Regions from separate parts of the Homo sapiens genome. Here regions 1, 2, 3, 5, 6 and 7 are each linked to region 4. Evidence: fine-mapped expression QTL. A gene starts in region 4. Each other region holds a variant in brackets. All regions are shown on one strand. Distances are from middle to middle.

Region 1 (4,000 bases), 60 kb after region 4:
ATGGATAAAGGACTGTATTCAGCAAATGGTGCTGAGATAGCTGGCTAGCCATAACCAGAAGAAAAAAAAAGGACCTCGACATTTCACCATATATAAAAATTAACTCAAGGTGGATTAAAGATTGAAATCTAAGACCTCAAACTATAAGAATCCTCAAAGAAAACCCAGGAAATACCATTCTGGACATTGGCCTTGGGAAAGAATTTGTGACTAAATTCTCAAAAGTAATTGCAGCATAAACAAAAATTGACAAGTGTGATCTCATTAAACTAAATAGTTTCGGCACAGCAAAAAAAATGATCAACAGATTTAATAGACAACTTACAAAATGGGAGAAAATATTTGCAAACTATTCATCCAACAAAGGTCTAATATCCAGAATCCATAAGTAACTTCAACAATTCAACCAGCAAAAAACCAAACATTCCCTTTAAAAGATAGGCAAAAGACATGAACAGACACTTCCCAAAAGAAGACAAAAAAGTGGCCAACAAACATAATGGGAAAATGCTCAACAGAGAAATGCAAATCAAATCCATGATGAGATACCATCTGACACTAGTCAAAATGGCTATTGTTAAAAAGCCAAAAATAACAGATGCTGGCAAGCCTGTGGAGAAAAGAGAATGCTTATACACTGTTGGTGGGAATGTACGAATTAGTTTAATCACTGTGGAATGCAGTTTGGAGATTTCACATAAAACTGAAAACAGAACTGCCATTTGACCCAGAAATCCCATTACTGAATTATAACCAAAGACAAATAAATCATTCTACCAAAAAGACACATGTACTCATATGTTCATCACAGCACTACTCATAATAGCAAAGACATGGAGTCAATCTAGATGCCCATCAATGTTGGCCTGCATAAAGAAAATATAGTACATGTATACCATGGAATACTATGCAGCCATATAAAGGAATAAAGTCATGTCCTTACCTAAGCAAATTAATGCAGGAACAGAAAACCAAATACCACAGGTTCTCACTTATAAGTGGGAGCTAAGCATTGGGTAAACATGACATAAAAACGGGAACAATAGACACTGGGGCCTCCTAGAGGAAGGAGAGAGAGAGGGGAGTAAGGGCTGAAAAGTACTAGGCTATTGAGTACTAGGCTCACTACCTGGGTGACAGGATCATTTGTACCCGAAACCTCAGCATCATGCTATGTACTCACGTAACAATCCTGCACAGTACCCTGTGAATTGAAAATAAAATCTGAAATTATAAAATAAAATTTCAGAAAGAAAGAATAAAATAAAATAAAATGTCCTAAGGATTTTGTATGTTTAAGAAGGGGGCAAAAATATTAATTCATGTTAGATTTTGATAAATGATATTCAAAAGCTAATTTTAGAATGACTAACAAAGTAAAAATAATATAGCATAAAATTTCCTTACTAGCTGGGTGTGGTGGCTCATGCCTGTAATCCCAGCACTTTGGGAGGCTGAGGCAGGAAGATCACCTGAGGTCAGGAGTTTGAGGCCAGCCCGGCCAACATAGCGAAACCCTGTCGCTACTAAAAACACAAGAATTAGCCTGGTGTGGTGGTGCTCACCTGTAATCCCAGCTACTTGGGAGGCTGAGGAATGAGAATTGCTTGAACCCAGGAGGTAGAGGCTGAAGTGAGCTGAGATTGCACCACTGCACTCCAGCCTGGGTGACAGAGTGAGACTCTG[A/C]CTCAAAAAATAAAAAAATAAAGCCTGGGCGAGGTGGCTGTTGACTGTAGTACCAGCACTTTGGGAGGCCGAGGTGGGTGGATCACCTGAGGTCAGGAGTTTGAGACCAGCCTGGCCAACATGGTGAAACCCCTTCTCTACTAAAAATACAAAAACTAACTGGGTGTGGTGGCACGAGCCTGTAATCCCAGCTACTTGGGAGGCTAGAGGCATGAGAATCGCTTGAACTAGGGAGGCGGAGGTTGCAGCGAGCCGAGATCGTGCCACTGCACTCCAGCCTGGGCAACAGAGCAAGACTCTGTCTCAAAAAATAAAATAAAATAAAATAAAATAAAATAAAATAAAATAAAATAAAATAAAATAAAATAAAATAAAATAAAATAAAATAAAATCTCCTAACTAGTAGGGGAAAAATTGAATGAGAAAAAAAATGCAATTGATGCAGGGGAGGACAAGAAAGACCATAGAAAAGGTAGGGCAAATACAAACCACTAAATAAAATTGTCAAAATAAATCTAAATATATTAGTAATTTAAATAAATATAAAGACACATAAAAATCAATTATAGTAACAGTGAACATGCGGAAGCTGACATTAAAAACACAGGGCAATTTACAATAACTCCAAGGAAAATGAAATACTTATGCATTTACTTAACATGTGCAAGATCTATATGCTACAAATTACAAAATGCTGATTTTGTGAAAGTCAAAGAAGACTTAAATAAATGAAGAGATATATCATGTTTATGAACTGGAAGACTCAGTTTAGTAATGCTGTCAATTCTCCCCAAATTGGTCTATAGTTTAGTGTAACTCCTATCAAAATCCCAGCAATATTTTTTTCATAGACCGAGGCAAGCTTATGCTAAAATATATATGAAAAGGCACAGGCCCTGAATAGCTAGAGCAATCTTGATAGAGAAGAAAGACAAAGAAATGGGAGAAACTACTCTACCCATATTAAGCCTGGCTATATAATTACTGTAATCAAGAGAGTGTGGTGTGGGCAGAGGGGTAGACACATGAATCAACGGAGCAGCACAGGATACCCAGAAATAGATTCACACAGTCTGCCACACTGACTTGACAAAGGTGCAAAACCAATTTAAAGGAGGAGGAATAACCTTTTCAACAAATGATGCTGGAACAATTGCATATCCATATGGGGAAAAAAACCCTAGATCTAAATTTCATGCTTTATATAAAAAATGAGCTTAAATTGGATCACAGGCTTAAATGTAAAACAAACCTATAAGACTTTCAGCAAAACACATGGAAGAAAGTTGTCAGGATCTGGCGCTAAGCCAGTAGTTGCCAGACTTGACACCAACTGCATGATCCATAAAAAGAAAAACTGATGAATTGGACCTCCCTGAAATTAGAAATGTTTGTTCTGTGAAAGCCATATAAAGAGGATGAAAAGGAAAACTACACACTCAGGAGAAAATATTTGCAAGTCATATGCCTTAGTCCTTTTTTGCTGCTATAACAAAATACCTCAAACTGGGTAATTTATAAAGAACAGACATTTATTTTTCACAGCTCTGGAGGATGGGAAGTCCAAGATTTAATCACCAGCATTTGGTATCTGGTGAGGCCCCCATCTCCACTTTCAACCAAGATGGAGCCCTGTTGCTGCATCCTCTTGAGGGGACAAATGCTGTGTTCTCAAATAGCTGAAGGGATGTAAAGGGCAAAAAGGGCCTAAGCTAGTTCCCTCCAGCTAGGCACCAATTCATTCATGAGAGCAGAATCCCCCTGATTTAATCACTTCCCCAAAAGACCCCACCTCTCAATACCATCATAATGGGGATTAAGTTTCAACACATGAATTTTGGAGGGAATGCCATCTTTCAAATCATAGCACCAAATATCTAGCAAAGAACTTACACATTTTAAATTCTAGAATATGTAAAGAACTCTCAAAACTCAACATTAAAAAAATCTATTAAATGAACAAAAGACATAAACAGACATTTACCAAAGATGATAAAAATAAGCACATGAAAAGATATTCAATATCATAAGCTGTTAGGAAACTTTAAATTAAAACTACAATGAGATACCACTACACACATATCAACATGACTAAGATTTTAAAAAATAACACCACCAAATGCTGGCAAGGATGCAGAGAAACTGGTTCACTCATACATTACTGGTGGGAATGTAAAATGGTAAGCCACTCTGGAAAAGAGTTTAACAGTTGTTTAAAATGTTAAACTTGCAACTACCATACAACCCAATAATTGCACTTCTGGACATTTATGCCAGAGGAATGAAAGTTATTTTAACATAAAAACCCAAATAA
Region 2 (4,000 bases), 100 kb after region 4:
TCTACTTTATCTGGTATTACTGTCACCAGGTTTCTTGTGTATTACATTTACTTGAAATATCTTTCCTTATCCTTTTATTTTCAGTCTTTCATGTCCCTGTACTTAAGGTATGGCACTATAAGCAGCATATAGTTAGATTTTTTTAAATTGAGTCTGATAGTTTATCTTTCAATTATTTATTCAACTTACATTTAGTGTAACTATGATAATATCTGGGTCTAAATCTCCCATATTAATTTATATTTCCTACTTGTGTTATTTGTTCTTTGTTCCTTATTTTTCTTTCTTGCCTTGTTTTAGATAGTCAAGAATTTATTATTATTCAAATTTCTCTGTCTGTGGACTTATTATTTGTGTCGGCAGATCTCCAGACCACCCTCAGGTTTGATGATTCCTTAGAAGAACTCAGAACTTGGAAAAGCTGTTATACTCACCATTACAGTTTATGACTGCAAAAGTATACAAATTAAAATCAGCAAAAGAAAAGGGCAACAGAGGTGTCCAAGAGAAACCAGGATCAATCTTTCAGTTTGGAAAAGAGGAAACCAGGATTCCTCTTTCAGTGTAGTTGGAATAACACCACTTAATTCTCCCAGCAATGATGTTTTCAATGCATGCAAAGTACTGCTAACATGAGAAAAAACAGAGAAGCTCACCTGAGCCTTGTTGTCCAGTGTTTTTATTGGAGAGTCAGTCACATAGGTATGGAGAACCCTTGTGATTGACCTTAGCTAATCAGTTTCCAGTCCCTCCACCTCAGAGGTCAAACTAATGTGGTATGGCCAGGGCCACAGGTGAACAAAAACAGGTGTTCACCATAAATCACATTGCTAGCAATAAACTAACTGTCATGACCCACATTCCCAGGTAAGGGACCTAAAGGAATTGAAAGAACAAATCACATGAATATCAGAAAGAAGAGAGTCCCAGGCAGAGGAAACACCAGGAGCAAAAGCCCTGAGGTGGGGACATGCTCAGAGAGTTGAAAAACAGCCAGGAGAACAGTGGGTAGAGTGCAGTGAGGCAGAGAGTATTAGAAATAAGGTTCCAGAGGTAGGCAGGTGCCAGATTACACAATACAAAGTAATGACTTTGTATTTTACTCTAAGGATGATCAGAGCCTTTGGAGAGTTTTCAGCAGAGGAATGTTGTATCTGAATTGCCATGAGTGACAGAGGCAGAGACAGAGAGAGAGAGAGGGAAAGAGAGTGAGATTTATTTGGTTACAGAAATTATAGACTATAAGCAGCAAGAGTGGAAAAGAGGAAACCAAGTAATAAACTATGGCAGCATTACAAAAGACAGATGATGGTAGCTTTGATTGTGTCCAGCAACAGGAGAATGATTAAATGAATTACAGTAAATCCATATAATGGAATATGATACAGTCATTATAAATAATATAAAATAATACATAAGAACACAAGAAAATGTTTATAATATAGTAAATGTAAACAAAGCAGTTATAAAAATAAACTATTATCTGAGTCACAAAGTTCATTCATCCATGTATAATATGGTGCTAGTTTATAAAAATATTATAGGCATAGAATATTAAAGCTGGAAGAGACTTAGAATGCACCTAACCCACCAGGAACAGAAGGATTACGTGACTTAAGTGATGGAGCAAGGCCTAGAATACAGATCTGATTTTCAGTCTAATGCTCATTCTATTTCACCCATGGTCTCTCTTTTATGTTAGATTTCATAAGTGCTTATACTCCTGCTAATTGGCATTCAAACAGACAATTAGAGCTAACAGAAAGTCTATTTTATTCATAAGTTATATTAAATCTTCTTAAATCTAGATTTTTAAAATTAATCTATAGTAGACTGAAGCCCTGTCCAAATAAGAAAGGGGGCAGGACTACCTCAAAATAAGAGATAGATACGTAGATAGATAGATGATAGATACATAGATAGATATAATTTTCAGGAGTCTTCACATAAATCAAGTCATTGAAAATAAATGATGAGTTCATGTCCTTTGTAGGGACATGGATGAAGCTGGAAACCATCATTCTCAGCAAACTATCGCAAGGACAAAAAACCAAACACCGCATGTTCTCACTCACAGGTGGGAATTGAACAATGAGAACACTTGGACACAGGAAGGGGAACATCACACACCGGGGCCTGTTGTGGGGTGGGGGGAGGGGGGAGGGATAGCATTAGGAGATATACCTAATGTAAATGACGAGTTAATGGGTGCAGC[A/G]CACCAACATAGCACATGTATACATATGTAACAAACCTGCACATTGTGCACATGTACCCTAGAACTTAGAGTATAATAAAAAATGTATATATAAAAAATAAAAAAGAAATAAAAAAAGAAAATAAATAATTAAATACATCTTGGCATACATTATAAAAATGTCTGTGATCCATGATTTTTAAAATTTCTAACAATGGTATACAGAATTTATCAAGGAAATAACATGCTTGGGCAGCAAAATACTGTTTCTATGACACCAGTAACCATTTCTTCTTTGAATCTGCAGGTTTCCCTGGCTATGATTTTAGATCAACAGGCTAGAAGTCTACTTCTAGAAACCAAACAGCCCAACCTTCTCCTTTCTATGGTAACGTAACAGAGCCCTTCACTGTCTGAGCTACAGGGGAAAAAAAGCTGTTTTTAATTAACCATTAATTATTTGAATGCAGCCTGCATTATGCGGAAAAATGTGTTACTTTCATCTTAATTTAAAAGACAACATCTGAGGTTCCAACTGACAAGAAGATACACTTTATAAATGCATTTATATCACTATTCTCCTTCAGAGCATTAGAAAATAGATTCATGGGCTTGGATAAAGAAGACGTCTGTGGTTCTGCAGGGTCTGAAATAGTAAGAAAGGTGAAAGATGAGGAAACGAGGGTTTATCCCCAAAGCTTTTTACAGAGGAGAGAAAACATTTTTTAATTTGAGAGCCTTCTGATTACTGTAAGTAGCTATCTGAATATTGAAAAGTAAAATTCAGATGAGATCTTACTGACTGCTAACAAAATCGATTTGAAATTTAAGGTCTTCTTCGTGCTTCATTTGCTATAAAGTCTTTAAAGGTATTTGAATCTGTGTACTAAATTAGATCAAACAGAAAATAGAAAAGATTTGTCACAGGTATAGAGTGCGTGACCAATAAGATCAAGTTCAACTATAAGAATGTTTATGAATATGGGGGAGAGTTGCCTCAATATTTTTATAATTTTATGTACGTTATTTTTCACGTCTTAAAGCTGCCCAAGTATAGAAAAATGCAGGACTCCAGTAACAGTTACCAGCATGATTTGCTTTTATTACCCTTCTGTTCAAGACCCTTGTTTCCCCTTGTAGCATGTCAAATTGCCCCCAAAACCACATTATACAGCAGAGAAATGTTGTTCACACTTCACTGGCTATTGATTTACTTTGTTTATTGGCACAAAATCAGCTTGAGATAAACATTTTGTCCCGCATTTCCACTATTGTAAGTGGTTATACTTCATTGCAAGATAGGTAAGCCCAAATGTGCAGGGTCACAATTCGACATGGCTTTCTAATCAATGTGTGCAAAATTATCTAATGAATAATGGGTTGCACATTTCCACAAACAAATTAACCAGGGTGAGACTGAAACTAATGATTATATTTATCTAATGTAATTTCACATCTGTTACTAGTGGTAGTAATTTTTTTTTCTCTTTCATCCGTGGCGTCCTCAAAATTACAACTTAGCTTTTCAGATACAGTTATGGAACATCAGTTTAACTAGAAAATAGACAATTTTGTGGAATGTTTATTTTTTTCTTTAAATGCCAGTGGTCCTGAGCAATATGATGCTATTTTATGAAATTTGGGAATCCAGACGTTTCTTAACTATTACCTCTGTTGTTTTCTAAGTACTGGCTGTGGGCTTAATGCCATAACCTATTGGTCAAATTCCATCATTCAGTCTCATAAAAAACAAAATGACTCCATTTTACCACTGTAAGACCATCCTTAATTTTGCCTGTCTTTACA
Region 3 (4,000 bases), 41 kb before region 4:
GATCTTGCCATCTGATGTCAGATTTAGCTCACAGGAGATACTCATTAAAATCATTTAGGAAGCCAAATAGGATGTACAGCAGGTCAAAACCCCCACCACGAGGAAGGAAGGGAAGACATGACCCATTTTCTGCAGACTTTTACTTTAGTTTGGTATTATTCTTTGAGAGTCTTCAACCAGGATTACAACTGGCTTGAATCCTGCTCATTCTAGTGTAAGTGTGTAACTTGCTATGTGATATTGTATGGTGTGGACAGCAAGACAAAAGGGCATATTTCCAATCTCTCTACAAAAGAGGAACTAGCCAGAAACAGCTGCCAAAAATGCTGAAACAGCCTGTGACAGTCATCCCACAGCTACCAAGCAGTGCCTGAGATCATTATGTTCTCCTCTATTTTCTCTGCCTTACACTATTTTCCTTGTCCCTAAATCTTAGACCTAGCAATCTAGGAAACTTGCTCAGCTCCACCGGCTAAAACTTCAGAGTAAAAGAGAATGACAATCCCATTATTTTAGTGACTTATTCTAGAATCCCAGAACTAAGCAAGGCTCGTGTTCAGAGCAGGTTGTGTTAACAAGCACAAAACTGTACATAATAAATGTACACAATGAGCTTACCATTGACATTAATCAATGAGAGAATATTATCCTGGTGATCAAGGAGGCGCTTAACTTCAAGAATATCCCATTCTAGTGATCCTTCTGTGGGTGCTACCAACCTGAAAATTACTAAATGAAAAAGACAGATAAAATTTTATTACAATGCTCTAAGAGGATAAAATACTACTCCTGCTCTAAAAACAAGCATTTCATTAAGTGAAAAATACCTACCATACTGAAAAACCCATCTCCAAAAAAAAGCCTTATTCATACTACTTTAAACTATTTCTTTCAAATGCTTGAGATGTTTGAGATGATCTACTAAAACCCATACTGAATGTGTCCTGAAGAACTCTCTTCCTTTACTGACTTTTCCAAACAGTGAAGCTCCCATTCTCTCTAGGGTTTCAACGGATGTCTTGTTATCTCAACTCACTCCCTCCCTAATCAGTGACTAGCCCACATCCCTCAATCACCTCCAACATCAGCTTTCTCTACTCATGTCTCTTACTCATGTAAGCATTGCGACAGAATAAGCTGCAAATCCAAGTTTAACTTCAACTCAGTGAAGACATAAGCAACTTCTTTTTTAAAAAGCTTCTGATTCCTAGGCATATACCATTAAATTATAAATTCTCTGAGTATGTCTTATAATGTTTATATATCATACAGTTCTTCTGACTATAGTAATGTTCAATGTGTTGCTTTACTCATTATCTGACTTTAACAAATACAGTTTTATTTAAACTAGTATAAATCCTAACTTTAATCAATACAGAAAACCCATAATAAAATCCACAGACGTGATTCTATCATCATTTACTAAACATTTATGTTCCAGGAACTCTACGTACCAAATGTGAATAAGGCCCAGTCACAAATGCTCAGTCTAGAGTGGGAGAGAGACTTGTTTATAAACAGGCTTACC[G/A]TCAATGTACTGAGTGTTTTAAAAATACACCACTGGACCAGGTGCTGTGGATGCTCAAAGATTAGCATCACTAACATCTGAGAAGTGACAAGTCTCTGAGATCATGTCCTTTTCAAATTACGAAAGTATCTTTTCTTTCTCACATTTCTCTCTAGAAGATAGGTCATGCCATGCTTCTTTCTGTGTCTCTGACAATATTTTACCAAACTACAAATCTCTATCCAGGTTATTTAATCCTGACAGCTACTCATATTCAAACTGTGGTTGTCAAAAGAAGGTTTTTCAGTCAATAGAAAAGAGAACTCTTTCTGATACACATTGAACTTATGGGAAATTCTACTTTAGTTGGAATATTATGAAGTGATCTTGAGACTGGAATTTTGGAATAACAAGCAATAAACTGTTTAACCAAGCTAACATACTGATTAAAACACTGATAAGAAAAAGAAACCTGGCCTAACATCCTGAAAATGTCTTAGTCTCTGTATCACTTCAACAATCCCAAGAAGCCAAGAGTGGGGCACACGCAATGTCCCTTAAATAAAAAATTACTTTAGTCCTTCCAGCATGTGTATACAATTCTCGTTCAAAATACACAAAAAGAAAAAAATTCATACTCACTCAGTTCTTTGCCAACTGCTGCCACAACACAGTTCTTAGGTATTTCAACCAAAGCACTAATACCTCCAAAAACATATAAAACAAAGTTCAAATTATTTTTCTCACAGATTATATCAAAAACAAAAACATTCTCAGTTTTATGTCAGTCGTTTTCCATAAAGAAGATAAAGCACACAGAACTAGCTCCACACACACTTCCTTGCTTGCTTACTAATGGAAAATGATTGTTAAATGTAGGTTTCTGAGACTTTTGGAAGACATTATTGATTTATTAAGAGCAGAATATGGGGTTGGGTTTTTTTGTACTTTTTTTTACTATTGTGATAAAGTGGTAGATTCAGCAATTCACACTTATTTACCAGGGATCCCTTAAGATAATCACCATCACCCATTTACAAGATGGCTAGCTCAAAAGTGATGTAAAATTGGGGTTTTCCTTCATGTAAACTTTAGAAGCCTGAGCAGGCTCCCTGGCATTGAATGAACTAGCCAACAGTCAGCAGCTAAGAAAGCAGCCTTCAAATAGCATGTTTGTGATCCACTAATACATGTAAAATTTTTCTTCTATTAATGAAAGAATCAGATTCAACATTCTAACACACTTCACTTATTTAAGTAAAGAGGTTAATGATTTTAGCGTAACTATAACTTCTACAAGGCATGTTACAATTTTGCTTCTGTCAGTATGAATAAAAGAGTTGATAAATTAGAACCACCACGTGTTGGCAAAAAAAAAAACCTGTTTAATTTTTCCATTATGATATATATGTAATTTATAATATATATGCAAGTGTAGAAAACGGTCTAGTCATTTGCTTATCCTTCCCATCCATCAAAGGACTGACTGTTGTGATTTGGATAGTATTTCTGGCCAAGATTTTTCTCCACATAGGCATATTTTAACAGTAGGTTTTGTATTTTCCCATGTACAAGAAGGAGGAAATGGTGCTGCAAGGAAGGCAAAGGAATGGTACAGAGAAGGCAGAGGACATGGGAGAACAGCAGGGTGGATAGCAAGAGAAGAATTCTAAATGCAGAAAACAGCTTGTTTAAAAATCTTTCACTAAATTATATGTGAAAATACTAGAAGCCCAACAATCCAGATGTAGCAACCTAATACTCAGAATCACAAAACATATTACTGGAAAGGACACGGATGCCCTGTGTTTTAGTCCAGGGCTCCTTCCATTGTATCACATTGACTAAGATTGTCTTTGCTTATTTCCAAACACAGAATAACTGCTTGTAAAAGCTCCACCAGTCCATAAATCAAGCAGGGCTTATGAAAGGACATCATGACATAAGGATCTAATAACACTATTAACAATCTGGCCTCCAGTAATTTGGAAAACCCAAATGATGAACAGCTCACCAATAGTAACCCATGGCCTTCTCAAGGCTTTCCCATAGATACCCTCAAAGCCTTCTGTTAACTCTTGAGACACTGATAAATGGCAGTATTGTAATGATTTAATATATAGTACTTAAACATAACTTGCAAAACAAAGGGAGACTGCAATAAGAGGTGGCTATTTCCAGGAACACACAGAAGATTCTTTTCAGCCCCAATTTCAACATTTTACAATATAACTTTACCAAAATAAAATTCATGAAAACCACAGGCTAGTGAAAGAGAGAGAAAAATGAACATAAAGACACATAATTCATGATAATAGTAAACAGGGAAATATATTCTAGATTTGAGCAAGACTATTAGTAATCAAATGTTGAACTGAGTGGTTAAATTGTAAACCCTAGCAATGTATGGATTTAGTTTTCCTAAGTCATTATGTTTCTGATACTTTAAAATATCTACGTGGAGCTAAGCTAGCTCCTATTAGTAACTAAATT
Region 4 (4,000 bases):
ATGTGGCAGAAACAAAACTGCAAATCAAAGACATAAAATAGTGAAACAGTGCCTCATCCATTACAAGCACTCAATACATGCTTGCTAAATGAATAAATGAAGGCATGAAATCAACTCTGGATTTCTCAAACTTGATGCTGACATTTTGGGCTAGAGAATTTTTTTTTTTCGCACCACACGCCCAACTAATTTTTGTATTTTTAGTAGAGACAGGTTTTCACCACGTTGGCGAGACTGGTCTTGAATTCCTGACCTCAAGTGATTCGCCCGCCTCGGCCTCCCAAAGTGCTGGGATTACAGGAGTAAGCCACCGCGCCCAGCCCAGATAATTCTTTGTTGTTGAGAACTGTCCTGTGCATTACAGGACATTGAGCAGCATCCCTGGTCTATACACATTAGATGCCAATAGAACTGCCCCTCTGCAAGGCATGACAATCAAAAATGTCTCCAGACATTGCCAAATGTCTCCTGCGGGGCAAAAATCACCCCAGTTGAGAACCACTGCTTAAACGAGAAGCCTGGATACAAAGTTATTGCATAAATTAGGGACAATCATAGGTTCCGATAATGTACAAATTCACAGCAGTTATACAACTCAATTAGATTTATATGAAGAAATATATAAATTTAAAACATGCATAAATGTTTTCCAAAAAAAAAACCACCACCACAAAGCATTGATTTTGTATTTATTCTGTCTTCCTTCTAGAAGAGATTGTGGTGAGAAATTTGAAAACTATATAAACTGCTTCTCCTCCAATGAAAACTTGCCAGGAATGGGAGACCTGGTTAAGCAAATAACATGATTAACCAAAGAACCAGGTTAAAACAGAATTATCCAAAATGTCGTATATACCATATATGGCTATTCAATAATCCACAATCTCAAGGATTTAGGATTAATCTGAAATAAGAAATTTTTAAAAACAGACAATACCGTCAACTGCAAAGACATGCGGAAGTTAAAATTGAGAAGACTGCCTACTCTCAACAATCCAATTTCTTACTTTTAACAATCTAAACAAATACTTCTTATGAGAAATAAAATGCAATTCACAAATTCTGTTCTTGTCAGGCCTCTGAGCCCAAGCTAAGCCATCGCATCCCCGGTGACTTGCACATATACGCCCAGATGGCCTGAAATAACTGAAGAATCACAAAAGAAGTGAAAATGCCCTGCCCCGCCTTAACTGATGACATTCCACCACAAAAGTGAAAATGGCCGGTCCTCGCCTTAAGTGATGACATTACCTTGTAAAAGTCCTTTTCCTGGCTCATCCTGGCTCAAAAAGCTCCCCTGAGCACCTTGCCCCACTCCTGCCCGCCAGAGAACAACTCCCCTTTGACTGTAATTTTCCTTTACCTACCCAAATCCTATAAAACGGCCCCACCCCTATCTCCCTTCGCTGACTCTCTTTTCGGACTCAGCCCGCCTGCACCCAGGTGATTAAAAGCTTTTATTGCTCACACAAAGCCTGTTTGGTGGTCTCTTCACACGGACGCGCATGAAAGTTCTTGTGTGGCATACGAAATAAATTTGGGACCTCAAAATTTCCAAGACTGCAAAAATTATTTTATTCACATTTCAAATGTAAATTTCATTACACACGGTCTATTCAATTATTCGGGCCCATGAAGAAAGTGTGACTATGAAACCAAAAACAGCAGTTAATTAGAAAATCATGTTCTTGACCTTGAAGCAGATTACTTTTTAAAAATAATTATATCCTTTTTCGGTTGTTGGATAAGTAAATTAATTTTATATTCCCTGACCAAGTATCAGTAGACGCCAGGAAGAGACACCAATTCAAATAAACCAAAAGTGGAAAGCTGCGGTCACAACTCGTTCGTTTCTAGCTAAATCGTATACTTTTTAAGTGGAAATGAAGATAGTTTCGGTAGCCAGAAGCCCTAAGTTGTCACAGGTCCCAATAGGACTGCTGACCAGCTGAGCGTCCCTGAGCCAGGATCTCACGATTCAGCTAGCCGTGGGACGGGGCCGGGGGTCTGCAGCTCCAGGGTGCGCCTGGGGTCCCGCCGGGTCTGAGGAGCTCCGGCTCCCGCGCCCTCCGCCCCCACCGTCGTGAGAACAGCGCGTGGCACGAGCTCAGCAGCCAGCCCCGCCTCCGCCCGGGTCCCCGCGGTCGGAACCCAGGAAGGCCGAACCGGAACGAAGCCGCCCCTCCAGCAAGCTCGACGGACGCAGAGCAGACCCACCCGGGGTTTACCTCGGCCAGTCCCTGCGGTTCTCGGCCTCCCCCGATCAGCCATCGCAACATCCGGGCAGCGGCGGCGTCTTGCCCGGTCCAGCCCCAGTCAGCCCAAACTCCGCCCCAGGCTCGGCCTCCTCCTTCCTCCCCGGCTGCAGCGCAACTGAGACGCTAATACTTCCCGCCCCAGATCAGCCCACGGGCCGAAGGAATGCAGACCACAGTTGAGGGAGAATTTTTGTCCCCAAAGCGCTCCCGTACCCAGCCACGGAGGCTTAGTTTGGGCAGTCGCTTGGGGTGCGGCGGCCGACGGCGGGGGCGGCTGCGGCGATTGCGGGGCGCGCGCTGCTCCGAGTGAGCACGCGCGGGAGCGCCGCCGGGTAGCGCACGGAGCTTAGGTAGCTCGAGCGGCCCCTGGTGGACGCGCGCGGAGCAGCAACCCGACCCCGGCGAGCAAGCGCGCACGAAGAATAATGCCCCTCCCTGTGACATGGCTTTAGTATCCTCCACTTCCTAGGGTACCAGGAAATCTCCCCTGCTTTCCCAAGAGCTTGCTGAAGAAGGTGTACCGCAGTAGACTTCTGCATCCAGACAAATCCAGTGGCTCATGTGTACAGCCGAATAAATCCGGCCAACATTTACTGTGTGCTATAGTACAGCTACTGTGCTAAGGCTTTACATAAATCCTCATGGTAAACCTATATCCTCTATTTTACACATCAAGAAACTAAAGCTCTGAATGATTAGGTAATTTGTCTAAAGATAACAGCTAGGAAGTGGCTACATTGGTAGTGTTCTTGACCGTATGCTATATTAACATAGAATCTCCCTAAAGAATAGAAGGCAGTTCATATACCTTTTTTTGACTACTACATTTTCTTAGGTAGTCAAAGGGCTGTGGTTATCTATGCTGACTGCATATCAGAATTACCTGGGTAGCTTTTGAAAATGTAGATTCCTGGCTTCCACCTCAGACTCATTAAAATAATCTTTGTGGTTGGGACGTAGGAATCGGGGTTTTGGGAAGGCTCCTCAGGTGATTCTGATGAGTAGCAAGGTCTGAAAATCACTGGTCTAGGAACTACTTATACATATCATGTTTGCAAAAGTATAAATATATATATTTGCATATGTATTAGGTTCAAATAATCCTCCTAGCAGTAAATTGTTGTAGGGAATCTACAAATGTCCCAACTAATGCATTAATTCAGCAAACATGTATTGGACACAGATGCACTAGAGAAGCAGAAAGGAATCACATAAAATGCTGCTCTGGAGGGACAAGGCATAATGTCCCAGTCACCAATAAGAGAGAGCCATACATCCCACTTTAAGCTAAGTTGGTTGTGAGCAGCTACACAAACTTACAGTCCCTCTGGAACTCGGATCTCCTATAATTCATCTTTGTATTCCTTTTGAGTGCACTCGGCAAGAACACACTCCCAAGGATCAGGAGCATGTTGCCTTCTGTGTGCTAGCCCCAAATTGCAGTCTGCATACAGTTGAAGACAGACCAAAACAGAGACTATCCCCTGGGAAAGAGGGACTTATCTTTAAGTAAAACAAAACTCAGAGACATCAGGAGTTCAGTTCTGGAAGGAATATCTTCACGTGAGACAATGTGGTTGCCCAAATAGCCTACATTTTATTCTTCTGATTATCCACATTCTTTAGGGTTTGCCCCATGCTCTTTAGGGTTTGCCCAATGCCACATTACTCTGATGTAAGGGACATTCTGCTGATGCTTTAAAGCACTGGTCCAGGGTTGAACACTTCCTCCCTTGGTTCCT
Region 5 (4,523 bases), 65 kb before region 4:
TCAGTAGTTTTGGTATGAGAATTTGTGTTTGTATGACATTGAACAGAGCTTTGACTTTGCAATGATAAAAGCAGATCCCAGAAAAGGGGCTAAGTACCCTGAGATCAATGTGTCAGGAGATGCTATGGTATCACATAGAAAGAGGCTTGGGGCCAGGCACAGTGGCTCGTGCCTATAATCCCAGCACTTTGGGAGGCCAAGGGAGGCAGATCATCTGAGGTCAGGAGTTCAAGACTGGCTTGGCCAATATGGTGAAACCCCTTCTCTACTAAAAATTAGCTGGACGTGGTGACAGGTGCCTGTATTCCCAGCTACTCAGGAGGCTGAGGCAGAAGAATTGCTTGAACCTGGGAGGCGGAGGTTGCAGTGAACCGAGACTGCACCACTGTACTACAGCTTGGGCAACAGAGTGAGACACTGTCTCAAAAACAAAAAAAGAGGCTTGAGAGTGGGAAGGTCTGAGTGTAGTCAGTGTAGCTCAGCTGACTTACGTAAGTCTGAGGACCTTGCTGAGCCTATTTCTTCATTGAGAAAACTGGATAATGACCCATTTTCACAGGGTTGTTCTGAGAAACAGGATATTACTGTGAAAGTGTCTCGCATGTCCTCCAGCCCTATGTGGTGGTTTTTTCTTACAGACTGATGAAGAGAAGAGACAGGGACTACCTGTGGTGATGCCAGTGTTTGACCGGAATACCTGTAGCATCCCCAAGTCTCAGATCTCTTTCATTGACTACTTCATAACAGACATGTTTGATGCTTGGGATGGTAAGACAGTTACTGTTTTGTCACCCAAAGAAAATTGTTATACTTTACGAATATTATCTTTAGTGACACAGGGTGAGCCTAAAGGTAAACAAAATATATTTTTAAAAATGTGGCTGTCAGCTTTTTGTGGCCAAGTGGGGTGGGGTGCATTCTTTGCATCCCCAGCAGCTGGCACAGAAGCTTGTGTGCAGAAGACTTGATGGATTTTTGATAGCTGGATAAACGAGTCTCTGCCTCTTCAAAGGACACGCTGCCAAAGCTTACTGCAGTGTTTTTCTGTCGTTGGAGGAAAACTCTAGAAAGAATGCAAAATGTATTTAGTTTACTCTGAATCACAGGTTCTTCTGATAATGTCACTGATAAGCAGCTTTTCAAAAAGGACCTGTTTGCATTTCAGAAACTAGTGTTTAATGACTTGTCCTCATGCTTCGCCCAGGGTGTGCCTCCTCTAATTCTGATCCCAAACTTGTCCCAGACACCCCCAGGCTTATAAATGCTCCTGGGGTCTAAGTTCACCGGTTTCTTTTGATTCTTTTCTGTCTTTGCAGCCTTTGCACATCTGCCAGCCCTGATGCAACATTTGGCTGACAACTACAAACACTGGAAGACACTAGATGACCTAAAGTGCAAAAGTTTGAGGCTTCCATCTGACAGCTAAAGCCAAGCCACAGAGGGGGCCTCTTGACCGACAAAGGACACTGTGAATCACAGTAGCGTAAACGAGAGGCCTTCCTTTCTAATGACAATGACAGGTATTGGTGAAGGAGCTAATGTTTAATATTTGACCTTGAATCATTCAAGTCCCCAAATTTCATTCTTAGAAAGTTATGTTCCATGAAGAAAAATATATGTTCTTTTGAATACTTAATGACAGAACAAATACTTGGCAAACTCCTTTGCTCTGCTGTCATCCTGTGTACCCTTGTCAATCCATGGAGCTGGTTCACTGTAACTAGCAGGCCACAGGAAGCAAAGCCTTGGTGCCTGTGAGCTCATCTCCCAGGATGGTGACTAAGTAGCTTAGCTAGTGATCAGCTCATCCTTTACCATAAAAGTCATCATTGCTGTTTAGCTTGACTGTTTTCCTCAAGAAC[A/G]TCGATCTGAAGGATTCATAAGGAGCTTATCTGAACAGATTTATCTAAGAAAAAAAAAAAACGACATAAAATAAGTGAAACAACTAGGACCAAATTACAGATAAACTAGTTAGCTTCACAGCCTCTATGGCTACATGGTTCTTCTGGCCGATGGTATGACACCTAAGTTAGAACACAGCCTTGGCTGGTGGGTGCCCTCTCTAGACTGGTATCAGCAGCCTGTGTAACCCCTTTCCTGTAAAAGGGGTTCATCTTAACAAAGTCATCCATGATGAGGGAAAAAGTGGCATTTCATTTTTGGGGAATCCATGAGCTTCCTTTATTTCTGGCTCACAGAGGCAGCCACGAGGCACTACACCAAGTATTATATAAAAGCCATTAAATTTGAATGCCCTTGGACAAGCTTTTCTTAAAAAAAAAAAAAAAAAGTTTATATACATGTTTAAAATTTTTATTAAAATCCAAATTTTCTGGGTGTAAGCCCATGCAGTATGTTGTGCCATGCACCATCTATACGTAATATTTTGGGAGGGGATAGGGGAAGTTTCAAGGTTCAGATATTTTTAACCAGTCTATATTTGAAATCATGCCATTAGCTTTAACAATGTTAAAATTGTGTGGTGTAAATATATCAGAAAATAGGCATATGGGGAGGCAGTAAATACTATTTTAAGCTATTAATTGTATGCTAAAAGCTTCTAAAGCACAAGTGCATATTTTTATACTGCTCTTTTCACAACTCCCTGTGATCTACATAAAGTCAGACTCGAGATTTTCCTTTCTCTTTTACCAGCTGATCCTTCCTATGTATTATAAATATTAGACTCCGTAAACAAACTTCATTTTTCTTTCTCTGTACTTCATGCTGCATTTTTAAAAGGTATAAACAAACAGAGACTGAATTAATTGAATCAGTAATTACTTTTTTCCAATACAAATTGGAATGCAGAATACTTGGAACTTGTACATGGGGAAAAAATGACTTATCACTACATAATGTGCCAATGTTTTTTTCTATGTTTTGTACCAAAAATGGAAAAATATGACAATTCCATGCAAAGAAATGTATCTAAATTATTTTTGTTAGATGATAAGAGAACTTGCTTGGTCAGGACAGCAGCCAGCTTTGTATTGTAATGCTATATTATGTAAATGTGATGAAAATGTTTTTGTGAAGTACTTGTAACTAAATTCCTACAGCCATTTTTCACTCCCAACAGCTGTTTTTATTTTACCTCTTTGGCCTAAAGTTTTCATAATTTCAAATTTGGGGTTTAGTGTCCTTTATTTCATGAGTCACACACTTTGTTTTCAGAGCACATTAAAATCAGGATGCCAGAATCCCATATTAAGGACCTAGCTAACTTGCCTAGGCTTCAGAAGCTTGCTTGAGGCAAGGACAATCTTTTTCTGATCATCTCACTTTCAGTTCTATTTGGTAAGTAACATTTATCAGGTGTCAGACATCTTCTATATGAAATATTTACAGCTTACTCAGTTTTATGTCAAATTTCTTGTTAACTTCAAACTTTTTATTAGTAATGTGCAAATGTTTAAAAATGCTTTAAGACAGCTAGGTACTAAAGCGTCAACAATTTCTGCTCTTTACCAGTGTAATCTACGGTATAATCTTCTGGCCTGCGAACTAGTCTATTCTTCCACATAGTCAACTTGTTAGAAATACAGGCTTTCAGATGATATGTGTATCAGATAGTTTATATTATATAAACTATTATAACTGCCTCTTACACAGAGTTGTTTACTTAAATGTCATGTGCTGAGGAGGGCCGTATTAGGAAAATGCAACACTCTCTAATAATTTCCGTGACTAGTAAGAGAAGGAAGCCAGTTATAAAACACTGCTGGACCAGAATGACCCTATAATTTCCTAAGATCATTCTTTATTTCTAATTTAAGATTTTTAAATTTACTTGCCCTCCATGTCAGGACTGGTTAGCATTCTGGGCAAAAAAAAAACAAGCCTGTCAGTTCACTCAGAACCTACTCAGCTTTAGAGAGAGAAACAGAAGGGATGATCTTGTGCCCTTGCGCTATGTGAATATAGCCAGAGACTGAGGTAATAAATATATTTTAAAATAAAAATGACAAGGGATTTGTACACTGTAACACTATGTAGTGTTACTTCTGCTGTTGCAAGTATCTTAACTGTTGAAAGCTAAACTCAGGAAATGGAGAAAATGTACATAATATACATTGACCCATTATTTTATTCTAAATTGAAAGTCCAACTTTTAGCAGCAGTCTACCTGCAACTACTGAACACCATCAGGTTTGAGTCCCTACCAGAATCTCCCATCATACTGTTATCCCCCATCTCTGTGACCTTAGGGCATGCATGAAAACAAAAGCAATCTAGTCCCTAGGGTTGGAGACTGCCCTCTAGACAGTTTTTCATGGCAGAAAATTAGAATACAAGTATACCTCATTTTATTGCATTCTGCTTCATTGTGCTTCAAAGATACTGCCTTTTCTACAAATTGAGGGCTTGTGGCCACCCTGCATAGAGCAAGTCTATCGGGGCATTTTCCCAGCATGGGCTCACTTTGTGTAAGTGTCACATTTTGGTAACTCTTAGAGTATTTCAAATGTTTTTATTCTTGTATCTGTCATGGTGGTCTGTGATCAGTGATCTTTGTTACT
Region 6 (4,000 bases), 66 kb after region 4:
TTACAACAGCATCCGAAAATATAAAGTGCCTAGAAATGAATCTAACAAACAATGGGTAAGATCCTTATGAAGAAATTATAAAATTTTATTGAAAGAGATAAAAAGACTAAATAAATGAAGTATAAATCTTATCCTCATGGATTGGAAGACAAATTCATAAAGATGTAAAGATTCAATACTATTTCAATCAAAATCCTAACAAGGTTTCTTTGTGGAAACTAACAAGCTGATTCTAAAATTCATATGGAAAGAAAAGAGCCAAGAATTAAACACTACTGAAGAAGAAAAACAGAAGGAAGAGACTTGCCTTACCAGATATCAGGTGTTTTATAAAGCTGGAGCAATTAACACAGTGGCATTTGCACAGAAATAGCAAAAATAACCAACAGTTGAAAACAGAGAACCCAGAACCCAGAAACAGGTTTGATTTTTGACAAAGGTGGTGGGGAAAAGATGGACTTTTTTTTTTTTTTTTTTTTTTTTTTTGAGATGGAGTCTCTCTCTGTTGCCAGGCTGAAGTGCAGTGGTGCGATCTCGGCCCGCTGCAACCTCCGACTCCCGGGTTCAAGCAATTCTCCTGCCTCAGCCTGCCGAAATAGCTGGGATTATAGGCCCATGCCACCACGCCCAGCTAATTTTTGTATTTTTAGTAGACATGGGGTTTCACCATGTTGGCTAGGCTGGTCTAGAACTCCTGACCTCAAGTAATCCACCCACCTTGGCCTCCCAAAGCGCTGGGATTACAGGCGTGAGCCGTTGCACCCGACTGACTGACTGTTTGTTTGTTTTGAGGTGGAGTCTCGCTCTACTGCGCAGGCCAGAGTGCAGTGGCATGATGTCGGCTCATTGCAACCTCTGCCTCCTGGGTTCAAGCAATTCTCCTACGTGTAGCCCCCAAGTAGCTGGGATTACAGGCACGCGCCACCACACCCAGCTAATTTCTGTATTGTTTGTGGAGTTTTAAATTTAATATCACTAAGACAGCTGGTTATTCATGTGGGGAAAAAAGTGAAATTGGGTCTTATTTTTGTGGTTGCCCCATGAAAGGTGAGCTCAATGCCCCCATCCAAAACTGGTTCAGATATCAAGATTGTTGATACCACATTTACAACAAGAAGGTATTTTAAAAGTTTATTACACACAATGAGGCTTTCTGGTCAGAACAGGACAGGCATCCAAGCCAGTTCTAAATGGCTTGAGGGAGGGAGAGAAAAGGGTCTTTGATTTTTAATGTGGTCAGTGATAGGGCCAGTATGAGGGATGATTTGAACTTCTCCTTGGCACCAAGGGAGGGGGCACCTGGGGTTTCTAATCAGCTTTGCCAGATGCTGGGCAAGAGGGAAAGGGGGAGGGGTGGAGCCTGAAAGCTGTTGGTAGTCAAACATCAAAAATGGAATTAGATTATTTATTACAGATCCCTTTTACACACATAAACAAAAAATTCCTTGTGGATTAGGAGTTATATTAAAAGCAAAAGTATGAAACTTTTAAAAGACAAAATTGAAGAATATCTTTATGATCTCAAGGTAGTGAAAGATTTACTAGACATAGCACAGAAAGTACTAACCATAAAGAAAAAGTGATAAATTTAACTCTAGTATATTAAAGTTAAAAACTTCTGTTTAAAAGCAAAACAAAACAAAAAACCATTAAGAGAATAAATAAGTAAACCACACTCTGGGAGAAGTGATTTGTTACACCCTAAAA[A/G]TGAGCCCCCAAAATTGTACCCAGAATATACAAAGACCTACTATAAGTCACCAGAGAAACACACACAATCCAATAGAGAATGGACAGAAGACTTGAGCAAGCATTTCACAAAGAGGTGGCAGAAGTAACCAAAAGTATAAAAAGATAAAAGATGCTCACAGTAAGATGACATTTCACATCTGTAAAGCTTGCAAAAATTAAAAATTCTGACAATATTAAATGTTAGCGTGAGCCACTAGAACACTTGTACACTTCTCATGGCAGTAGGAATCAGTATAGTCGCTTTGAAAAAGCAGTCTGGCATTAATTGCTTAGTGGATTTGAAGGCATGCAATTCCACTCCTAGGCACGTACCTACAGAAACTCTTGCACATATACACCAAAATACATGTGTAGTAATACTCAGAGTATAGTGACACTATTCATAATAGAGAACAATGAAAACAGCCCAAATGTTTACCAACAGTAGAATGAATAAACTGTGGCATATTCATACAATGGACTATTAGGTGAGAGTTAAAAGTAATGACTTATAGTAGAAGCAATGAAGTTACAAAAGAATGTATACGGTATGATTATCTTTATATAAAGGCCAAAAACATGCAAAATTAAACAACATATTGTTTAGAAGAAAAAATGTGGCAATGCAGTGAGTAAGAACAAGCAAATAAAAACCCCACGTCAGTGTAATGATTACCTTTAAGTAGGGAGGGAAGAAATGAACACATAGGGAACTTCAAATGTTCTTTTTAAAAAAAAAAAAAAAAAAAAAACAAAACAGGAGTAGGTATGTAGGTAATCGTTAAAATGCGATTCTTCAAATGTTAATATATTTTAAATTAATATTTAACTTTAAAAAACAATTTGTATAAAGAAAAATCATTGCTCTTGAATTCTCTTTCTGTTTAGGAAAGGAAAATTTACCATTGTGACATTTTTAGTGTCTTATGAGCTTTTCCTTGTGCATGAGTAAAAATCTAAGAAAAATAGAAAAGGAAATTGAAAAAGAATATTCTTACATATGTGCCAGGCAACAGCAGACAGCCCACCTTTCCCAGGGAGTCTGGCTACACAAAGGCCTATGGAGGCAGAGCAGATTGCCGCATTCACCAAAAGAGCCTCGCTGACCTGCACCGAATTCCCCAGAGGACTGGGCCCTACTTATTTTTACATCATTAGCCCTCTTGGGGCAGGCTGAGGTCATTTCCAATTTGAAAACGACCTTGGATCACAAGCTGAAGTTTTCCATTTGTTTACGCTATTAAACATCCTGAGATATGATTAATAAGTCTTCTGCATAGAGAAATAAGTTTATTTCTAACAAACATGGTCCTTGACATGTTTCTACTATTTATGTTATTGCAGTGAGTTCATTCCACAAACTAATTTTCCAGCACTTTCTAATCTTAGCATTGTTTGGCAGTCTCTTAAACTCAGCAATAAGTTGTCTGATAAACCAATATGCAAGACATGAATTGTTTAGAAAATTATGAATATGTGATTACTTTCATCCTTTCAAAATAATAAAGTCATTGAAAAAATATTTTTTTTCTGTATTTTCCAAATTATCTATTACACTAAGGGAAAAAAACCTTAATTTTTAAAGCTTAACAAGAAATTGTGGGCTAAGATTCCTTAGGGAATCAAATATACATTTCACTTCTTGTAAAAGGGTCTATGAAAGCTGTTATTACTCTTTTAGGAGAGCTCAAGAATAAATAACAGACACATGTATTGAGTTGCTCTGTGTGTATTAAAGACAGTGGTACGCTGGTAAATAGTTAACAACCAGCTATATAGAGAGGGAAATAGCCTTGACTTGATTTGTAGCATTTGCCAATTTCTGTCATGTAAACACTCCCACTGTGGCCAATTTCAAGCTACCAATTTGATATCACTAAATGTCGAGTTGGGGAGAAATGTACCACACAGATACAAAAGATAGATGTAAATAATCTTAAGAGTATAGATGTTAAAATGCAGCACCATAATTAGAAAGTGATGTTTTTGAGCAGTTATTACATTAATATAAATTTTAAATTACAAGTTTATATAATTTGATTGTTAATAATTACTGTGTTTAACAACAGGCTGGCAAAATTCTTGAAGCTGCTTTAGCAAGGCACTAATTAGACCGTACTGGTGGTAATGTACTACCCAATCCAGTACAACAATTAGTAGATGACAGAATTCAATATATGGACATGATTTTTATATAATGTTGTTATATAAATATAATGTTGATGTATACATAACATATCTATAATTTGTTATATGTCAGCATTATATATAA
Region 7 (4,000 bases), 29 kb before region 4:
CAGCTACTAACTTCTGTATGTAATTTTAATCACTGCCTCAAAATATTGCTATAGTGTCTTAGGAGTGGTCTAATAGAGTATTTTAAATTCTATTTTTGCAAAGATTACACTGATACTGAAAAAGAGAGCTTTATCCCATATTTGCCTCTACAGAGTAGTAATAAAGCAACTCTGACCTAACCATCTGAGAGAATTTTATGCCCTTGTTTACATTGTATCATAATCACACACAAACATACATATATGTGTGTATGTATATATGTATGTATGTATAGAGAGTTTATCCCCATTTAAACCTTTTCTTGACATTTTTTCAGCTATGAACAATCTGTCTAGAAAGCACTTCAGTTGATGAACTCATTTAAAGCATGTTCAAGTCTGTATCTTGGTTCTGTAAGAGCCTAAGAAACACCTATACTTTTGGGCTTACTCCAAAACTTCACCAATGCTTGAAAGTGTTTACACAGAACTTTCAGATAAGCATATACTTTTAAAAATTAATATGACCGGAAACAGTGGCTCATGCCAGTAATCCCAGCACTTTGGGATGCCAAGGCGGGCAGATCACGAAGTCAGGAGTTCGAGGCCAGCCTGGCCAATATGGTGAAACCCCGTCTCTACTAAAAATACAAAAAAATTAGCCGGACGTGGTGGCAGGCGCCTGTAGTCCCAGCTACTTGGGTGGCTGAGGCAGAAGAATCACTTGAACCTGGGAGGTGGAGGCTGCAGTGAGCCGAGATTGTGCTACTGCACTCCAGCTTGGGCAACAGTGAGATTCTGTCTAAAAAAAAAAAAAAATTAATCTGACAACCTCTTTTAAAAAAATAAAAGTAATGAAAGACAACAGTTATCCATAGCACTTGACTCTGGACTTCACCAAGCCAATTCCTCATACAGATATTAAAGGGCTGAGTTTGTTTACAGAAAACATTTTATGAAGTGCAGTGGTTCGGGGCTCTGACTCTGCAGTCAGACTTGCCAGTTCTGCCCTACACTGGCTGTGTGCCTTGGGAAAGTTACTTAGCCTCTGTGTGACTCTATTTTTTTCATCTGTAAATAAGAATAATTAAAAATAAGGCCGGGCGCAGTGGCTCATGCCTATAATCCCAGCATTGTGGGAGGCCAGGGTGGGTGGATCACCTAAGGTCAGGAGTTCGAGACCAGCCTGACCAACAGAGTGAAACCCCATCTCTACTAAAAATACAAAATTAGCTGGGCGTGGTGGCACAGGCCTGTAATCCCAGCTACTCGGGAGTCTGAAGCAGGAGAATCGCTTGAACCCAGGAGGCAGAGGTTGCAGTGAGTAAAGATCACGCCATTGCACTCCAGCCTGGGCAATAAGAGTGAAACTCCGTCTCAAAAAAAAAAAAAAAAAAGAATTAAAAATACCTATGTCAAAGGGCTAATTTTAAAGATTAAATGAGTTAATATATGTAAAACAATTAGAACAATGCCTGTTACACATAAGCACTTTACTACTGCTATCCCATCTTAACTTTTTACCTAAAAGTATGGGTAAAGAAAAAGTAATTTTACTTTTATAAAATTGTTTTTAATTATTAAATATTACACACTGAACAAACAGTAATTCACTTTTCTATCAGACTCAGATGCTCCAAAGATTTTTATGGGTTGGGACCATTTGGTTTCTTCTGCTGTATAGTGGGGAAAAA[A/G]AATGTAAATTATTCTCCAGTCCAACTCATCGTTGTTTCCCTAAATTGAAAAGCAAACTGAGATAGTAAAATAAATTATTTTTAAGTCCACATTTTCCCATTTCATCAATTTTATACAACCTGATAGAGTAACTCTGGAAAGAACAGCAATAGTCACGGAGTTTCCATCAATAACAAGCCTTAACCTCCTATTTCCAGTCTAATACTTTTCAGATACCTAATAAATGGTATCTTATAAGTAACAGAACAAAAATCATTTTTGCTATAACAAGAATATACAGACAAGACCCTATCAGCTAAAGACTAATAGTGTATGTAGTGGCTCCTTAGGCCACTACAGCTTGTTCATTTCTTCCAGATTAAAGGATACAATAACTGTTCTATCAGCAGAGGCTGTCAAGATGAGTTGATTTTTCTCTTCACAAGATTCCAAGGAAGGAAATGTAATAATAGCTGTTATCTTTTGAGTGTGTCCATTCAGTTCTAAAAGTTTTTCCCCTGTCTGAAATACCAATAAAAATGTTAATAGGCTTAGCTTTCACAATTTAGATAATCATAAATGACTACATTAAGTACAACTACCATATAGAAGATACATATACATTCCATTTAAAATTACTTATTCAGAATTTAACTTAAGCAATCACACAGAATCTAAACAAGCACTGAAAGTACAGCCATAACTATAGTTTTATTTTCTAAAACAAAATGCTAATTTTTAGTATATTTTTATAGAAAATTTTGAGTATTTTTTTCTATAAATTTAAAAATATAATTGTGTAAATTAAGCATAAAAACATCAGTAACTTAGTTTGCAGGAAAAAAATATGGAGTCCTCATTGTCCAAGTATTTGTTATTTAAGTCTCCACAGTTATAAGGTCATAGAAGAAAATAAAAGTCACCATAACAACTGTATATGTACCTACACACAAATAAGTATATATATCCACTCATTTATTAACCACTTAGAAAGTCAGTCTCCACTCCATCGTTATTTAACACCAACATCTATTCCTACCCATCCAGTGTCTTCATCCATCAGTCTCTGACTAATTTACCAAGTAGTAAACATGCAAAAATACAATGTAAATGGCAAATCTTTCCAAGATTGCAGGACTTCGTGAATGTGGTGAAAATAATGTTAAAGAACTGATTTTATCACAGGCAAAGCCATTGAAAAATAAAGATCTGACACAGTCAGACTAGATAACAATCCAAAATTAAGGTGAGAGGAAGATACTTCAAAAAAGAATAATTTGAGTAACAAATGATCAGGAAGGGAGGCTCTGAAGAAACTGGTGAAGCCTTAAGTATTTATTTAAAAAAAAAAGGCTTTTGTAATATTAAGTCAAACATGAGAAAAATGTTACATTATGCTATTACGCAATGTTGAAAGAAAACTTGTGTGTCTCACAAAAATCAACACAATTCATTTATTCATTTTGGAAGTCAGGGCATAGCTAGTGATAACCTAAATTTTGTTAAATAAGATTAAAATTTTGTATTTTTTGAATTTTCATACTTTGGCATTTGTTTCTTAGGAAAAAACTTTTTTTTTTTTTTTTTTTTTTTGAGACAGTCTTGCTGTGTCACCCAGGCTGGAGTGCAGTGGCATGTTCTCGGCTCACTGCAACCTCAGTCTCCCGAGTAACTGGGATTACAGGCATGTGCCACTATGCCCAGCTGATTTCTAGTATTTTTAGTAGAGACGGGGTCTTGCTATGTTGGCCAAGCTGTTCTCAAACTCCTGGCCCCAAGTTATCCGTTCGCCTTGGCCTCCCAAAGTCCTGGGATTACAGGCACGAGCCACCACACCCAGCTGGAAAAAAAATCTCAATTTAAAAAAACTTTCCCTCTTCATTATGAAATACTGGTCCCCACTGTATATGGATTTATCCTAATTAGCTCTTTTCAAATATTAATGTGTCAATTAACAGTGATATGTAAATGTATCCCCAGATAGTATTTATATGAATACATACTCAACTACATCATCATATCTTTATCACACAATCCACACATAATCAATACACACCTGGGCATTCCACACAACTACAATTCCATCATCACCAGCAGATGCAAATCTGGTTAGGGAGAAAGGGTCAAGAAAAAAAAATCACTGGTGACATTTAATTACTAAGATTAAGAACTATCAAACCTTATTAGTGGTATTTTGACTAATATTAACGAAGATCAAGTTATTTCAGCTAATTTAAAAAATATTTATGAAACACATTCCAGCTTCTGTACCAGGTATGGAAGATCAAAAGATAAATAAGACATTTATAAGTTTACAAAGAATAAACTGCTAGAAATGTAAAAATAA

Direction of the effects. Alleles are on the strand shown, and positions count from the first base shown. SD is a standard deviation of normalised expression in the study named. Not every link is listed here.
In carriers of allele A in region 6, the expression in testis of the gene that starts at base 2,375 in region 4 tends to be lower than with G alone (moderate effect, 0.70 SD a copy in GTEx).

What was found. PIP is the estimated chance that this variant, and not a neighbour inherited with it, causes the effect.
Region 1: its variant is fine-mapped to the expression of WDR41 in whole blood (INTERVAL, PIP above 0.99). The same link has a PIP of 0.9 or more in anterior cingulate cortex, fibroblasts, lymphoblastoid cells, tibial nerve and vagina.
Region 2: its variant is fine-mapped to the expression of WDR41 in anterior cingulate cortex (GTEx, PIP 0.96).
Region 3: its variant is fine-mapped to the expression of WDR41 in whole blood (TOPMed, PIP 0.99).
Region 5: its variant is fine-mapped to the expression of WDR41 in esophagus mucosa (GTEx, PIP above 0.99). The same link has a PIP of 0.9 or more in fibroblasts, lung, nasal epithelium, pancreas, stomach and sun-exposed skin.
Region 6: its variant is fine-mapped to the expression of WDR41 in testis (GTEx, PIP above 0.99).
Region 7: its variant is fine-mapped to the expression of WDR41 in whole blood (INTERVAL, PIP above 0.99).

The regions. Positions count from the first base shown.
Region 1 is chr5:77,549,988-77,553,987 of GRCh38, forward strand. It overlaps a transcript of WDR41 not described here. Among named protein-coding and RNA genes, the nearest start is that of WDR41, 60 kb to the left of the region's middle. The variant A/C (reference allele first, on the strand shown) is at 1,687.
Region 2 is chr5:77,592,123-77,596,122 of GRCh38, forward strand. It overlaps a transcript of WDR41 not described here. Among named protein-coding and RNA genes, the nearest start is that of OTP-AS1, 36 kb to the right of the region's middle. The variant A/G (reference allele first, on the strand shown) is at 2,216.
Region 3 is chr5:77,449,142-77,453,141 of GRCh38, forward strand. WDR41 (WD repeat domain 41) reads right to left here. Exons shown (of 13, transcript NM_018268.4): 7 at 2,150-2,212; 8 at 619-729. Among named protein-coding and RNA genes, the nearest start is that of WDR41, 41 kb to the right of the region's middle. The variant G/A (reference allele first, on the strand shown) is at 1,529.
Region 4 is chr5:77,489,942-77,493,941 of GRCh38, forward strand. WDR41 (WD repeat domain 41) reads right to left here and starts at 2,375. Exons shown (of 13, transcript NM_018268.4): 1 at 2,229-2,375. The coding sequence starts at 2,279. RefSeq lists an enhancer at 1,837-2,760 and silencers at 1,881-2,100, 2,541-2,680.
Region 5 is chr5:77,425,129-77,429,651 of GRCh38, forward strand. PDE8B (phosphodiesterase 8B) reads left to right here. Exons shown (of 22, transcript NM_003719.5): 21 at 639-768; 22 at 1,317-3,128. The coding sequence ends at 1,426. Among named protein-coding and RNA genes, the nearest start is that of WDR41, 65 kb to the right of the region's middle. The variant A/G (reference allele first, on the strand shown) is at 1,863.
Region 6 is chr5:77,555,637-77,559,636 of GRCh38, forward strand. It overlaps a transcript of WDR41 not described here. Among named protein-coding and RNA genes, the nearest start is that of WDR41, 65 kb to the left of the region's middle. The variant A/G (reference allele first, on the strand shown) is at 1,708.
Region 7 is chr5:77,461,052-77,465,051 of GRCh38, forward strand. WDR41 (WD repeat domain 41) reads right to left here. Exons shown (of 13, transcript NM_018268.4): 3 at 3,710-3,758; 4 at 2,044-2,175. Among named protein-coding and RNA genes, the nearest start is that of WDR41, 29 kb to the right of the region's middle. The variant A/G (reference allele first, on the strand shown) is at 1,674.